4 linked regions of the Homo sapiens genome follow. The protein of the gene in region 3 purifies or fractionates together with the protein of the main gene of each other region. This does not show direct contact. Each region holds a gene or a part of one and is shown on either strand. Other genes may lie near its edges.

What was found.
Region 1: the proteins of NUBP1 (region 3) and ZBTB10 purify together in Homo sapiens (affinity purification with mass spectrometry; one large-scale study listed by BioGRID and IntAct). This does not show direct contact.
Region 2: the proteins of NUBP1 (region 3) and ZBTB21 purify together in Homo sapiens (affinity purification with mass spectrometry; one large-scale study listed by BioGRID and IntAct). This does not show direct contact.
Region 4: the proteins of NUBP1 (region 3) and FNBP1L purify together in Homo sapiens (affinity purification with mass spectrometry; one large-scale study listed by BioGRID and IntAct). This does not show direct contact.

Annotation. Positions count from the first base shown.
Region 1 is NC_000008.11:80,489,226-80,492,725, reverse strand, and holds part of ZBTB10 (zinc finger and BTB domain-containing protein 10), read right to left. Parts: intron 1-3,500. UniProt on the Homo sapiens protein: May be involved in transcriptional regulation.
Region 2 is NC_000021.9:41,993,361-41,996,860, forward strand, and holds part of ZBTB21 (zinc finger and BTB domain-containing protein 21), read right to left. Parts: intron 749-3,500; 5' UTR 736-748; coding exon 1-735. UniProt on the Homo sapiens protein: Acts as a transcription repressor.
Region 3 is NC_000016.10:10,757,342-10,760,841, reverse strand, and holds part of NUBP1 (cytosolic Fe-S cluster assembly factor NUBP1), read right to left. Parts: exon of another isoform or gene 2,970-3,500; coding exon 2,815-2,969; exon of another isoform or gene 2,565-2,814; intron 1-2,564. UniProt on the Homo sapiens protein: Component of the cytosolic iron-sulfur (Fe/S) protein assembly (CIA) machinery. Required for maturation of extramitochondrial Fe-S proteins.
Region 4 is NC_000001.11:93,528,118-93,531,617, reverse strand, and holds part of FNBP1L (formin-binding protein 1-like), read right to left. Parts: intron 1,967-3,500; coding exon 1,862-1,966; intron 864-1,861; coding exon 735-863; intron 1-734. UniProt on the Homo sapiens protein: Required to coordinate membrane tubulation with reorganization of the actin cytoskeleton during endocytosis. May bind to lipids such as phosphatidylinositol 4,5-bisphosphate and phosphatidylserine and promote membrane invagination and the formation of tubules.

The DNA.
Region 1 (3,500 bases), on a different chromosome or scaffold from region 3:
GTGGGCAGATCACGAGATCAGGAGATAGAGACTATCCTGGCCAACATACTGAAACCCCGTCTCTACTAGAAATACAAAAATTAGCCTAGCATGGTGGCATGTGCCTGTAGTCCCAGCTAATCAGGAGGTTGAGGCAGAAGAATCACTTGAACCCAGGAGGCGGAGGTTGCAGTGAGCCCAGATCACACCACTGCACTCCAGCCTGGGTGACAAGTGAGACCCCATCTCAAAAAAAAAAAAATTCTTCAATGTACCCTGATTATATACTGCTACCATGTTATCTGTGTCTTTTTTCGGTCATGTCTGTCTCTCCTTACTAAACTACAAGTTCCTTGAGGGCAGAGAGAATGAATGTTAACAAAACATACAGATTTTTATCTCCAGTGCTTTGCCAACCTAATACAGCTAAATTTAAGATGGAGAAGGAAGCTAATCCTAGGTACACAATAAGGTATACAGTCAGACACTGCTAACAAGTTTGAAAAGCACAAGGGCTATGAACTAGCTGTTACTGAATAAAACACAAAGAATAAATTATAAATAATGTAAAATATATAAATAAGAAACAACGGAATTTAATGGGCTACAGGCTCAACTCTAATCGATTTTTCCTCAGTGAAAGGTCTTTCAGACTTTCTTCCTAAAGTGTTAAAAACCAACCAAGTAACCAACCAACCAACCTTCCGCCCTTATTTCTGCCATAAACAAATTAGGCTGATAGATCTGCCTTACATTCTTTTGTTTGCTCAGCTACTGACATCAATATATTCCAACTGGAAATTTCAATCAGATCACTGGTCTGAATTCATTACTTAGTTTCTGTAAAGGTTAACTAAATTTACAACAATAATACATTTGGATGCATGTTTCTCCCAGGAAGAGTTGACAGGATGTGTGATTTAGGCTATGAAAATTTCACAATTAGGTAGAAAGTGGTCTAAACCAAGAATAACTGGTAATCACTGTTATTAAGGAATTTTAAAGTCTTCTGGGCCAAATGGTCAGATACTGAATGAGCTAATCATTAAACCTGACTCTGACGATGTAGTCAATTGTTACTCAAAATTAAACTATTAATTGTCCCTCACATCCTTATAAATACAGGGACACCTCGGAAATAGAAGGCTCAAAACACAGACTCAGAAAGCATGTTTTAAAAGACTTTCCCATGAACAGTCCACAATAACCAAGGTCCAATTAACAGAAGGATTAACTTTTTGGTAACTACCAAGGGATTAACAAAAAGATACTTTTCTTACTTAGAGGAAAGTAACCTTTCATGACATACAGTTATGCATCACTTAACGAGAGGGATATGATCTGAGAGATGCATCGATTTTGTCACTGTGCCTTAGCGTACACAAACCTAGATGGTATAACCTACTACACACCTAGGCTATATGGTTGGGCCTATTGCTCCCAGACTACAAATCTGTACACTATGTTACTGTAAGGAATACTTTAGGCAACTGTAACACAATAGTATTTGTGTATCTAATCTATCTAAACATGAAAAAGGTACAGTAAAAATATGGCACACCTTATAGGGCACTCACCATGAACAGAGCTGGCATACCTGGAAGCTGCTCTGGGTGAGTCAGTGAGTGGTGACTGAATGAAAGGCCTAGGACATTACCATACACTGCTGTAGATTTTATGAGCACCGTACACTTAGGCTACACTAAGTACAGACAGGGTCTCACCATGTTGGTCAGGCTGGTCTCGAACTCCTGACCTCAAGTGATTCACCCACCTCGGCCCCGCAAAGTGCTGGGATTACAAAACAAAGTACGCTACAACTTTACGCTATCACCAGGCGATAGTAATTTTTCAGCTCCGCTATAATCTTATGGGACCATTATCATAAATGCAGTCCATCCTTGAGAACGTCATGCAGTACATGACTGTGTTAAGATGTGGCCAAATTCCTCTCAGAAACGGGACTCTTTGAGAAATAATTGGGAAAATAGGAGTTTAGTACTCCTAGACTCAAAGTGATTTCTTGCCTAAAGAATTCTAAAACTCTCATTTCCATGTTTTTAAGACAAGATATTAAGAGTGTCTTTGTGAAGCTGAGAAAAACTGCATGTATGAGAAATAGGCTCAGAATGTTCAAAGAACCTGATGGCCACAAAGTCTCTGAAGGTATAAAAAGGAGAACTGATTGGTGATCAAAATGAGTAATAACGGCCAGGCTCAGTGGCTCACACCTGTAATCCCAGCATTTTGGGGAGGTCAAGGTGGGAGAATTGCTTGAGCCCAAAAGGTTGAGACCAGCCTGGGCAACATAGCGAGACTCCCGTTTCAACAAAAAACTTAAAAATTAGCCAGGAATGGTGGCGCGCACCTGTAGTTCTAGCTACTCGGGAGGATGCCTGAGCCCAGGAGGCTGCAGTGAGCCTTTATCTCACCACTGCACTCCAGCCTGGGCAATAGAGTCACTGTCTCAAAAAAACAAAACAAAAAGGTAATAATGATAATAAATAACGGCACTAAGTGGTTTTATGCTGGCACATATACTTTGCATACATAACGAAACTAGAAGTTAACTAATTTGCCTGCCTAAAAAGTAGAGATTTAAGAGCAAAGTCCTCTGACCTTAAGCCCAAGTAGGCGCTTACATTACGTGTTGTGTTATACTGCCTCCTATAGGTAATTGGAGACTGAAGAAAAACGAAAAACAAAATGATTGCACTCTGCCCAAAAGAGATCAGGAACCTGTTACTCATGTTACTCATGTTAAGACAAACAGGTATTTATATAGGTGGTACCTGGGGGGTTGATAACAAGATATCCCCTCAAGATTAGTTATAATGAAAGTAATAAATGATTAAGATCAATTCAAAGTGAAAACACCCAAAATCCAATCAAGGAGACCAATATATAACCTTAGGACACACAGGACTTACTAAAACTGTAGCCCTTAATATATGTATATTGTATAGAATGTCCCAAAGAAAGGAGATGGCCTGCAGATTACATTGATGGGGGAATTTAAAGGAGTGATGAGGAAGAGAGTCGTAGTTCGGGTCAAGTTTAGAAAGGTTTTTCCTAGGAATTCCAAGACGCAGATACATACCCAGAGGAGAAGAATACACTCAAGCTGAGGCTACCTTAAGGTTATCCAATTAATGCCCCTTCTTCTGATTTCAGGTTCACTAAAGGAGCTAATTATAATTTGCATTCCCATTCAGATTTGCCTACAGGGAGAGACTATGCTGATAAAGAGGAATTGGTCCACAGCCGATTAAGAAAATTCATCCCATTTAAAATTTTCTAAGTAACCAACATAGCCCTATTTGGAAAATTAAACTTTCATTTTCACAAGTCCCTTGCAACTCCATCATCTTACTACATAACTTCAGGAATGTTACTTAACCCTTTAAGGCTTTAGATTCCTCTTCTGTAAAATGGGAACAAAAAATAAATACTTTGCAGAATAAATGTGTTTGGCACACGGAAAACCAGGAGCTGTTAGTTCCATTTCACTCTATTGCCCA
Region 2 (3,500 bases), on a different chromosome or scaffold from region 3:
AGGCTTTGAAGGCAACACTGCATTTCTTTTCACCAAACTGATTCTATTAGGATCATCCAAAGATCCAGAATGCTCAAGAGACTTTGCATATACCACAGAACTATCTTTCGGCCAACTCTTTTCAGTTAATGACAAATTATGAAGTGGTTCTATTGGTTTTGGGACATGTGGCTTATTGGTATTGGCCTTGACTGCAATGCTAGGAGAGGGCCGGGAAGTATGGCTTACATCGGGTTGATTTTGACTAACAGTTTTTCCTTGCGCTTCGTTTCTACTTTGACAAACAATGACACTTCTCTTTTGAGAACTGTTTTCATCATCTTCTACAAACACTTTTTTTCTATTAGGACACGTTGGAAAGGGGGCTTGAGGTGTTTTAGAAACGATGTTAGTCAGAAAGGAAATCCCAAGACTATAGCCAAGTTCTTGCACAGCAGCAAGGCTGCTCTTCTCAACAAATAGAGAGGAAGAATAAATGTAGTTTAAAACATTATCAAAAGCATCTGGCTCACAGAAGTCAAGCTGAAATACAGTTTGTGACTCATTTTCCTTATTTGTGAATAAACTCTGAAAGTATTCGCTGCTGGCAGCCAAGACGTTTTTATGAGCTCGGAACTTTTGGTCTCCAACAATCAGCAGCACATCACACAGCTGTCCTTTGAGACGCTCCTCATTCAGGGCACTTAGGAGAGAAATGGCGTGTGCAGGGTTGATGTAATGCAGTAATCCCTCCATGGCTTGAGTTTATCTAAAAGACAAAATGTAAAATTACTACAGATATTGCAGTGAAAAGTTCCCCTGGCTCCTCAAGAGCAGGGAACATCAGCTGTCTTTGCATAGGTACCAATATTTAGCAGACCGTAGGCTAACAGAAGCTCTATGAATGAACAATCTTATTTAAATAATGGTGAAAATGTAAAATAAGTCTCGTGGTTTAAGTAGGTCCTCATTAAAATAGAAGAATTGCAGGAACTATAATATAGGCATTTGTATATCATCAAAAAGGCTGCCAGAACTTGGCAGGTAGATATGGAAGCAATATTTGAAAATAAAGGTTTATTATTTAGGGTCCTTATCCATTTGATGCTTGGCACTATTCCTTACCAATTCAGAAAACAAGTACGAATTATCAAACCCCTGAAGTCTATAATTCTGAAAGAAAATCAGCTTTATTACTACATATACTTAAACATAATGTGAACTGTTAACAATTGGTTGCAAAGCAGGTCTTGTGAGACCCTTGTTTTTATTTTGAGACAGGGTATCTCTCTGTCACCCAGGCTGGAGTGCAGTGGCACCATGATGGCTCACTGCAGCCTCAATCTCCTGGGCTCAAGCAATCCTCCCACTCAGCCTCCTGAGTAGCTGGGACCACAAGCACATGCCACCTTGCCAGGTGATGCGGTTTGGTGGTGTCCCCACCCAAATCTCCTCTTGAATTGTAACTCCCACAATTCCCACGTCGTGGGAGGGACCCAGTGGGAGGTAACTGAATCATGGGGGTGGGTCTTTCTCGTTCTCTTCTCATGATAGTAAGCCTCATGAGATCTGATGATTTTATAAAGAGGAGTTCCCCTACACAAGTTCTCTCTTCCCTGCTGCCATGTGAGATGTGACTTGCTCCTCCTTGCCTTCCACCACGATTAAAAGGCCTCCCCAACCACGTGGAACTGTGAGTCCACTGAACCGCTTTTTCTTGTAAGTTACCCAGTCTTGGGTATGTCTTTATTAGAAGTGTGAAAATGGACTAATACAGTAAATTGATACCAGTAGAGTGGGGCACTGCTGAAAAGATACCCGAAAATGTGGAAGCGACTTTGGAACTGGGTAACAGGCAGAGGCTGGAACAGTTTAGAGGACTCAGAAGAAGACAGGAAAATGTGGGAAACTTTGGAACTCCCTAGAGACTTGCTGAATGGCTTTGACCATAATGCCAATAATGATACAGACAATGAAATCCAGGCTGAGGTAGTCTCAGATGGAGATGAGGAACTTGTTGGGAACTGAAGCAAAGGTGACTCGTTATGTTTTAGCAAAGAGACTGGTGGCATGTTGCCCCTGCCCTAGAGATCTATGGAACTTTCAACTTGAGAGAGATGATTTAGGGTATCTGGCAGAAGGAATTTCTAGGCAGCAAAGCATTCAAGAGGTTCTCAGGTGCTGTTAGAGGCATTAAGTTTTATAAGGGAAGTAGAGAATAAAAGCTTGGAGAAGTTGCTGCCTGACAGTGCGATAGAAAAGAAAATCCCATTTTCTGAGAAGAAATTCAAACTGGCTGCAGGAATTTGCCTAAGTAAGGAGGAGCCGAATGTTAGTCACCCAGACAATGGGGAAAATGTCTCCAGGACATGTCAGACCTTTGCAGCAGCCCCTTCCATCACAGGCCCAGAGGTCTAGGAGGAAAAAATGGTTTTGTGGGCCAGGCCCAGGGCCCCCTTTCTGTGTGCAGCCTAGGAACTTGGTGCCCTGTGTCCCAGGTGCTCTAGCCATGGCTGAAAGGGGCCAAGGTACAGCTTGGGCCATGGCTTCAGATGGTGCAAGCTCCAAGCCTTGGCGGCTTCCATGTGGTGTTAAGCCTGCAGGTGTGCAGAAGTAAAGAACTGAGGTTTGGGAACCTCCGCCTAGATTTCAGAGGATGTATGAGAACACCTGTATATCCAGGAAGAAGTCTGCTGCAGGGCTGTGTCCCCTCCATGAGGGGCAGGGCCCCATGGAGAAACTTCTGCTAGGGCAATGCAGAAGGGAAATGTGGGGTTGAAGCCCCCACATAGAGTCCCCACTGGGGCACTGCCTAGTGGAGATGTGAGAAGAGGGCTACCATCTTCCAGACTCCAGAATGGTAGATACGTCGACAGCTGGCACTGCGTGCCTGCAAAACTCACAGACACTCAATGCCAGCCCATAAAAGCAGCCAGGAGTGGGGGCTATACCCTGCAAAGCCACAGGGGCAGAGCTGCCTAAGACCATGGGAGCCCACCTCTTATATCAGCTTGACCTGGATGTGAGACATGGAGTCAAGGGAGATCATTTTGGAGCTTTGAGATTTGACTGTCCTGCTGAATTCTGGACTTGCACCGGGGCCTGTAAGCCTCTGTTTTGGCCAATTTCTCCCATTTGGAACGGCTGTAGTTACCCAATGCCTGTACCCCCACTGTATCTGGGAAGTAACTAACTTGTTTTTGACTTTGCAGGCTCATAGGCGGAAGGGATTTGCTTTGTCTCAGAAGAGACTTTGGTCTGTGGACTTTTGAGTTAATGCTGAAATTAGTTAAGACTTTGGGGGACTGTTGGGAACGCATGATTGGTTTTGAAATGTGAAGACATGAGATTTGGGAGGGGCCCAGGGTGGAATGATACAGTTTGGCTGTGTCCCCAGCAAAATCTCATTTTGAATTGTAGCTCTCACAATTCCCCACATCTGGGAGGCACCCAGTGGGAAGTAACTGGATCATGGGGGCAGGTCTTTCTTATGCTCTTCTTGTGATAGTGAATAAATCTCA
Region 3 (3,500 bases):
TATTTAGTACCTACTAGTGCTAAGCCCTGTTTGTTCGAGGTGCTATTTACTTCCCACACAGCCAAATAGCAAGAAATCAACCTAAAAGAAAATGACTTTTTTTTTTAGAGACAGGATCTCACTGCTGCCCAGTCTGGAGTGCAGTGGCATAATCATTGCTCACTGCAGCCTTGACCTCCTGGGCTCAGGCAATCCTCCTGCCTCAGCCTCCAGAGTAGCTGGGACTACAGGCATGTGCTACTCTGCCTGGCTAACTTTTTAATTTTTTATAGAGATGGTTGTTGCCCAGACTGGTCTTAAGCTTCTGGTGTGAAGTGATCCTCCTGCCTCGGCCTCCCAGAGTGTTAGGGTTAGAGGCGTGAGCCACTGTGCCTATCTGAAAATGACCTTTTAACGCATCTACATGCTCCATGTCCCTATACTATACTATATTAAGCCAGTGTGTGCACTGTTTTCTAGACCAGAGCTTGGCAAACCCCAGCCTGGGGGCTGAATCTGGCTGGTTTTATAAATAAAGTTCCTCCGGAACCAGCCATGCCCGTCCCTCTAGGCACCGTCTGTGGCTGCTTCATGCCACAGTGGCACGGCTAAGGGGCTGGGACAGGGACCGTGGGGTCCGCAACGCCTACTTCCTATCTGGCCCTTTACAGAAAAGTTTGCCAATCCCTGCTCTAGATAATTATAAACACAAACAACTGACTAAAAGGAAATAAGGAATACTGCCCAATGTGGACAACTTTGCATTTCCTTCTCAACTCTGAGTTTTTCCAATGTGATTACTGTGTATAAACACCGCTCAGTAGCTCCCTATTTTCCTCAGTTAATGTTATCACAGATCCCTGTACCCAAGTCCTGCTGTGGCTTGTCACTGTCAGGTGTAGTGACTCCTTAGCACCTGGAGCTTCACCACTCACGTGAGCCCGAAAGGCTCGCAGCTTTGGGCCTGTTCTTTTCCTGAGATGCCTGTTTGGCTCTTGACACTGAGGCTGGGATGCGGAGGAAGGGGCGCTCAGCTAGAAAGTCAATGGGCTGCGACTCAGTCTCTCATTTCTTTCTTTCTTTTTTTGAGACAGAGTCTTGCTCTGTCGCCCAGGCTGGAGTGCAGTGGCGCGATCTCGGCTCACTGCAACCTCTGTCTCCTGGATTCAAGCACTTCTCCCACCTCAGCCTCCCAAGTAGCTGGGATTACAGGTGCCCACCACCACGCCTGGCTAATTTTTGTATTTTTTTGGTAGAGACAGGGTTTTGCCATATTGGCCAGTCTGGTCTCGAACTCCTGACCTCAAGTAATCTGCCTGCCTCGGCCTCCCAAAGTGCTGGGATTACAGACATGAGCCAGTGTGCCCAGCACCAACCACTTTTTAAAAATGGGACAGAAAACATTCCTAAGGACAAATACACTTTCTCTCCACTGCCATCACCCGGGCCAGGCCATCCTCCCTCCTGTCCAGGGTCCCAGCTGGTGTCCTGCTCCTCCTTGCGTCCCCATGTCCCCTCTCTGCAGGATGCCAGGGTGGACATGAATCTTGCACCATTTTCTGACCCGGACACCCTTCCCATGGCCGCTGGGCCTGCCACTCCATTGGCTGTACCCTCATCCCTGTGTCCAGCACCTGTGTTCCTCAGGGAGCCACAGGGGCCACCAGGGAGAGCCAGGCCTTTTTACTGCCCTGGTGCCCGGCATGTCAGAGTCAGAGCTCAGTGAGTGCTGGATGAGGTGAGACTATGGGTCGTCCTGACTGATTCTGGCCAGTGAGATCAAATCAAACCTCCTTTGCTGGGCTTTCTTAAGTGTGGAGGAGAACGTCATGAAGAGAAGTCAGGCGTAACTGTGGAGATGGAGAAGAGCCCTCAGTTTCTCAGGCCCCTGAGATGGATAGCACCATGGTCCTGCCTGCAGTTGCTCTCTGCAGGACTTACAGAGAGGAAACTTCCTATCGCTCTCCTCTCAGCTCGGGCTCACCATGGGCCTTGGAGTACAGCCACTAGGTGACTGCTACAGAGGGTTGCTGGGTGTCACTACGGAAGAAGCGAAGGCACCCAGTGGCTTATCCCGAAATCCCTATCTGCACCCAGCTGGTTCTGTTGAAAACTGGAGAGATTTCCTAAATCATCCTGGGATGTAAACGGAAAATCCACTGTAGGCTGGGGGACCTGACACATGGACACGGCAAGGCTGACGGGGCCAGGCAGCACAGTATGAATTATAACTGCACTGGTGGTTTCCCTAGTTTCCTCAAGGAAAGTTCAAAAAGCATTCTTGACCCACTATTGTTTAATCCATGGACTAAAAAAAAACCAAATCGTTGAATGGTTGTCAGCTGCAAATGTCTAGACCAAAGATGAAGTTTTTCTTATTTTTATCTTTTGGGACAAGGCCTCACTCGCTTGCGCTGGCTGGACTGCACTGGCGTGATCATGGCTCACTGCAACCTCCTTTCCCCAGGCTCAAATGATCCTCCTACCTCAGCCTCCCAAGTAGCTGGAACTACAGGCGCGAGCCACCATGCCTGGCTAATTTTAAAATATTTTTTGTAGAGATGGGGTTTTGCTATGTTTTTCAGGCTGGTCCCGAACTCGTGGGCTCAAGTGATCCTCCCATCTCAGCCTCCCAAAGTCCTGGGATTACAGGTGTGAATCACTGTGCTGGCTGAAGTTTTTAACACGAGGTTTCTGCAGACCCACATCAGATGCAGCTGCGGAACACACACTGGGAAGAGCCTTGGTGAGACCAGAGTATCAGAGCCAGGTAGGAAAGAAATCTCACAGTGTGGAGCACAGTTTGGACCCAGCTCCAGCTGGCAGCTCGCTCACCTGGGGAGTGGTGATGATCACTGCTCCATCGATGTGTGCTGTGGCCAGGTACCGGACGACCGAGAGGTGTTCATCCGACGTCCCAGGTGGGGTGTCCACAATGAGGTAGTCGACCTCTCCCCAGTCCACATCTCGGAGGAACTGCTTGATCATGCCTAGAAAGAGGAATCCACAGGGGATGCTTACTTTTCCTTTCTTTTCTGTACTTTCAACTCCCTCTTTTTTTTTTAAAGGATGGGGTCTTGCTATGTTGCCCAGGTTGGCTCTTAACTCTGAGGCTCAAGCAATCCTCCCACCTCAGCCTCCCAAGTAACTAGGACTATAAGTGCGTGCCACTGTGCCCAGCTCACGGAGAAGCATGATCTGATCTTTTTGTGCCTTTGGTCTATGCTGTAAGTCAGTGGCTCTCAACTGGGAGTGAATTGCAATGTCTGGAGACATTTTGGGTTGTCACAAATAGAGTAGGGGGTGCTACTGGCATCTTGTGGGTAAAGGCCAGGGACACTGTTTAACACCCTATGGTGTAGAACACGGTCTACTCCTCCCCCCAACAAAGACTTATCTGGCTCAAAATATCAATAGTGCTGAGGCTAAAGCTTGCCCTGATAACACTTTCACATTATTACCTTAAGTCTCAGTACCAGATCAACCTCCTGTTGATCTCACCTCTCTGACCCAAATAAGCC
Region 4 (3,500 bases), on a different chromosome or scaffold from region 3:
CTCTCACTGTGCTTTCTTTGTATTTCCAACTTGCCTTATAAAGAAGAAAAAGTGTACCCGGGCTGACACTCTTCCCACAGAAGCTCTGCTCGTTGAGATAATAACTCATCAACACTGCTTTACTAAATCCCTTTTCTGTAATTTCTCTTCTTTCTAGAACAGGCAATTAAATAATTTAACCCTCATGAAAATTCTGAGGTCTTTTTTACCTGAGGCTGTTTGGCAACTGTTATCATCAAGTGATGACAGACAGGATTTATAAGCAAGCTCAAAGTCTGAATTACATTTATCATCTAACAGAGCCAGCATGATAAGCAGGCAAAAACCATGCTAGCAAATATATTTTGTAAGATTTATTTCTGCCATCTGGACTGATGCCAATGACTCTGGTTTGGTATAAAAATGCTACATCTCAATTCTAGGTGAGCAGATTACAATATACAAATTCAATTAATTCTCCTTTGTCATGTCAAAATACTTAAAGTATTTAAATGTATCTTACAAATGTCATTGTTTTAGTAAACTGTTTATAACACTAATAGTAGATACGTAGGAAAATGTGTGACTTAAAAGTTAGAAAACACTTGTTTTCAAATCTATAATCATAAAGGAATCTCTCACCCCAACCCTGATGTCTAGTGAATCTAGAAAGATTCTGATGTCTAAGACTTACAAGTTTTATATTTAAACACCAGTTAATCTAAAACTAGATTAACTTCATATCTAAGATTTACCTTGTAAATCTGAGGAATCACTACATAAAAATGTTTATGTTGTTCTCCATTAAAGTTTTGTAATTGTGCAGCATATTCATTTTTATTTTCATCGGCCATATGCGTACGCAGATTCAACTGCTGTTTGGCCTAGGGGCAAAATGGTCGAAATTATTATCAACAACAAAATCACAGCAATTCACTTTTTTGAAAATTATACTAAAACTAGATTTTATCAATGAAGAAGCCAACACCTGACATCAAAAGAATAATGACGTGGCATAACTTTTTTGAACTATTAATATCATTTAAAATATATTTTATATTTAAAGACACCTGCAGATCTTACTGTCAGAGTGGTCTCCTTATTACAATATTCTTCCCTCTCTCATTACAATAGTATTCCCTGATAGCAATAAGACATTCTAATATAGACTCTCCTTACCAAATCCAGATAAAAAAACAAACAAATGAAAACATTATAGCTTGAAACAGTGTGCTTTTAATCAGAAGAGAAAAACAGGTAGCTTTAGGAATATTTTCAGATTGTTAAAAAAGTTAACAGTAAAACATTTATGATCCAACTATATCCAACTAAAATATGGAACTTAAATCACAGTGAAACTAAATAATAATATGATTGTTGAATAATGCAACATTCAACAGTGTTTCCACCAATGTGTAGAACCACAGATACTTTAAGGAATGCTTATTTAGAATACAGTTCTGTTCCTCTTGATCTCTTGTACAAAGTCAAATTAAGGAATGCTTATTTAGAATACAGTTCTGTTCCTCTTGATCTCTTGTACAAAGTCAAATTACAACAGTTATTCTCTAACTAATTATTACCCCATCAACACATCTTAGCTTTCTAACCTATTTTGGAATAGGCTAAAAACTCAATCCCAGTAGCAACTACGTCTTTCCTCTAAATTTGAATGCAGCTAAGATATTGTAATAAATTAACATATATTACTTTCTCAGACCAATACGTATAATTTAAAGTTGGCAAATATTTGTATATTTTAGACTTAGATACAGTGTATCTCAAGTAAATCCTAATACTGTAGTCATACAAATGTCGTGACTACTTTCCTTATGCAAATAATAATATTTTGACATTAAAGTTGGTTTGGAGTATTTCTTACCTTTTCAACATCTGCCTTGGTTGCATTAGTATCATTATCCAATCTTTCATAACTCTGTTGTGCCTTTTCTGCCTCTCTACATTCTCTTTCAAACTTCTTTTTACTCTGTTAAAAAAATTAAAATATCACACTGAGAAAATAAAATCAGGCTAACTTCATTTAAGAAATAACTTTAGAGAGCATTAGGAGAAATAACTAACATAGATGACGGGTTGATGGGTGCAGCAAACCACCATGGAACATGTATACCTATGTAACAAACCTGCACGTCCTGCACATGTATCCCAGAACTTAAAGTATAATAATTTTAAAAAGAGAGAAAAAAGAAATAACTTTAAAATGTGCCACTGTGTATTGTGTGGAAATGAACTGCGCACTAAGTAAAATTTGTCCTTTCTAAATTAGAAAATAAATTTTACTATTACAACCAATCCACGTTCCTTAAATATCAGACATTAATTACAGACTATGAGGAAAAATAACATAGGCATGACTGAGTTAATATTTATTATATATCTCACTCAAAAAATGTGTGTTTTATAATTTTTTTATAAAAAATATAAGTCCTCATCTTCAGGAGGACTTTTTTGGTTTGGTGTTTTTTGTTCAGTTGGTTTGTTTTGGCATTTATTTTTATACTTTTTTGGTGAGATCCAATGTAGCTTGGGTATATGGAGCGTCCCTCCAAAGTGGTTTTATATTGTTTCTTCCAGGTGTCCCACGAAGAACATCAGCCCAGACCCCAAATCTTTTTAAATTTTATTTCATTCAAACTATTATGACTTTGTAAAAACTATTCACAACTGAGCCATGTAAAATATATGTCATATTACATTTTCTTTCCTACATAATTTTTTGATATTCTGGAGTTAATACATGTCTTCATTTTTTCAATTTGCTTAGTTTCCAATGCATAATTCAACCAGTTTTTTCCAGTTCTTTAAAACTGACTGCAGTTAATTCTAACACATTAGGAATTCTATTGATTTTATTTTCTTGATAAATCTTTCCCAAAGGCTTCTAAACTTGCTGGAATTTGAACTCATTACCAACTAGGCCTAATGCATAGTTGTTACCTTAGCATTTCCCTCCCCCATCAACCTGTGGATTCATTTCACCTCCATCTTTGTTTGGATGTCCTATTTCCTAGTTGTATGCTTTCTCCGTTCTTGATTCACTTCCTCATTTTGCTAGAACACATTCAGCAGCAGCCTCCTAAAAGGTCTGCAGGAGATAACTGAATCTCCATGGCTAAAAATGCATTTACCATCATTTTTAATTGACAAAATTTGGCTGGATATAGAACTCTAAGTTGGAAATCATTTTCCTTCAAAAACTTAAAAGTATTGCTCCACTATTCTTCTGGCTTCCTGTGTAACTATCCTGTCTATTCCATTCTGATTCCTGACCCATTGTATAAACCATGTTTGTTTGTTTGGGGTTTTTTCTCCCTGGAGGGTGGTAGAATCTTCTCTCTCTCCAAAGTGTTCGAAATTTCAAGAGATGTGGACCCACTGTGCTGAGCACATGGGATATCCTTTCCATCTGGAAATTCATGTCTTTCAGTTCTGGGAAAACTTTCTTGAGTTATTTTTGTCCTTTTCTATGTTTTGTTCCTTTTCTATGTTTTCTCTTTTCT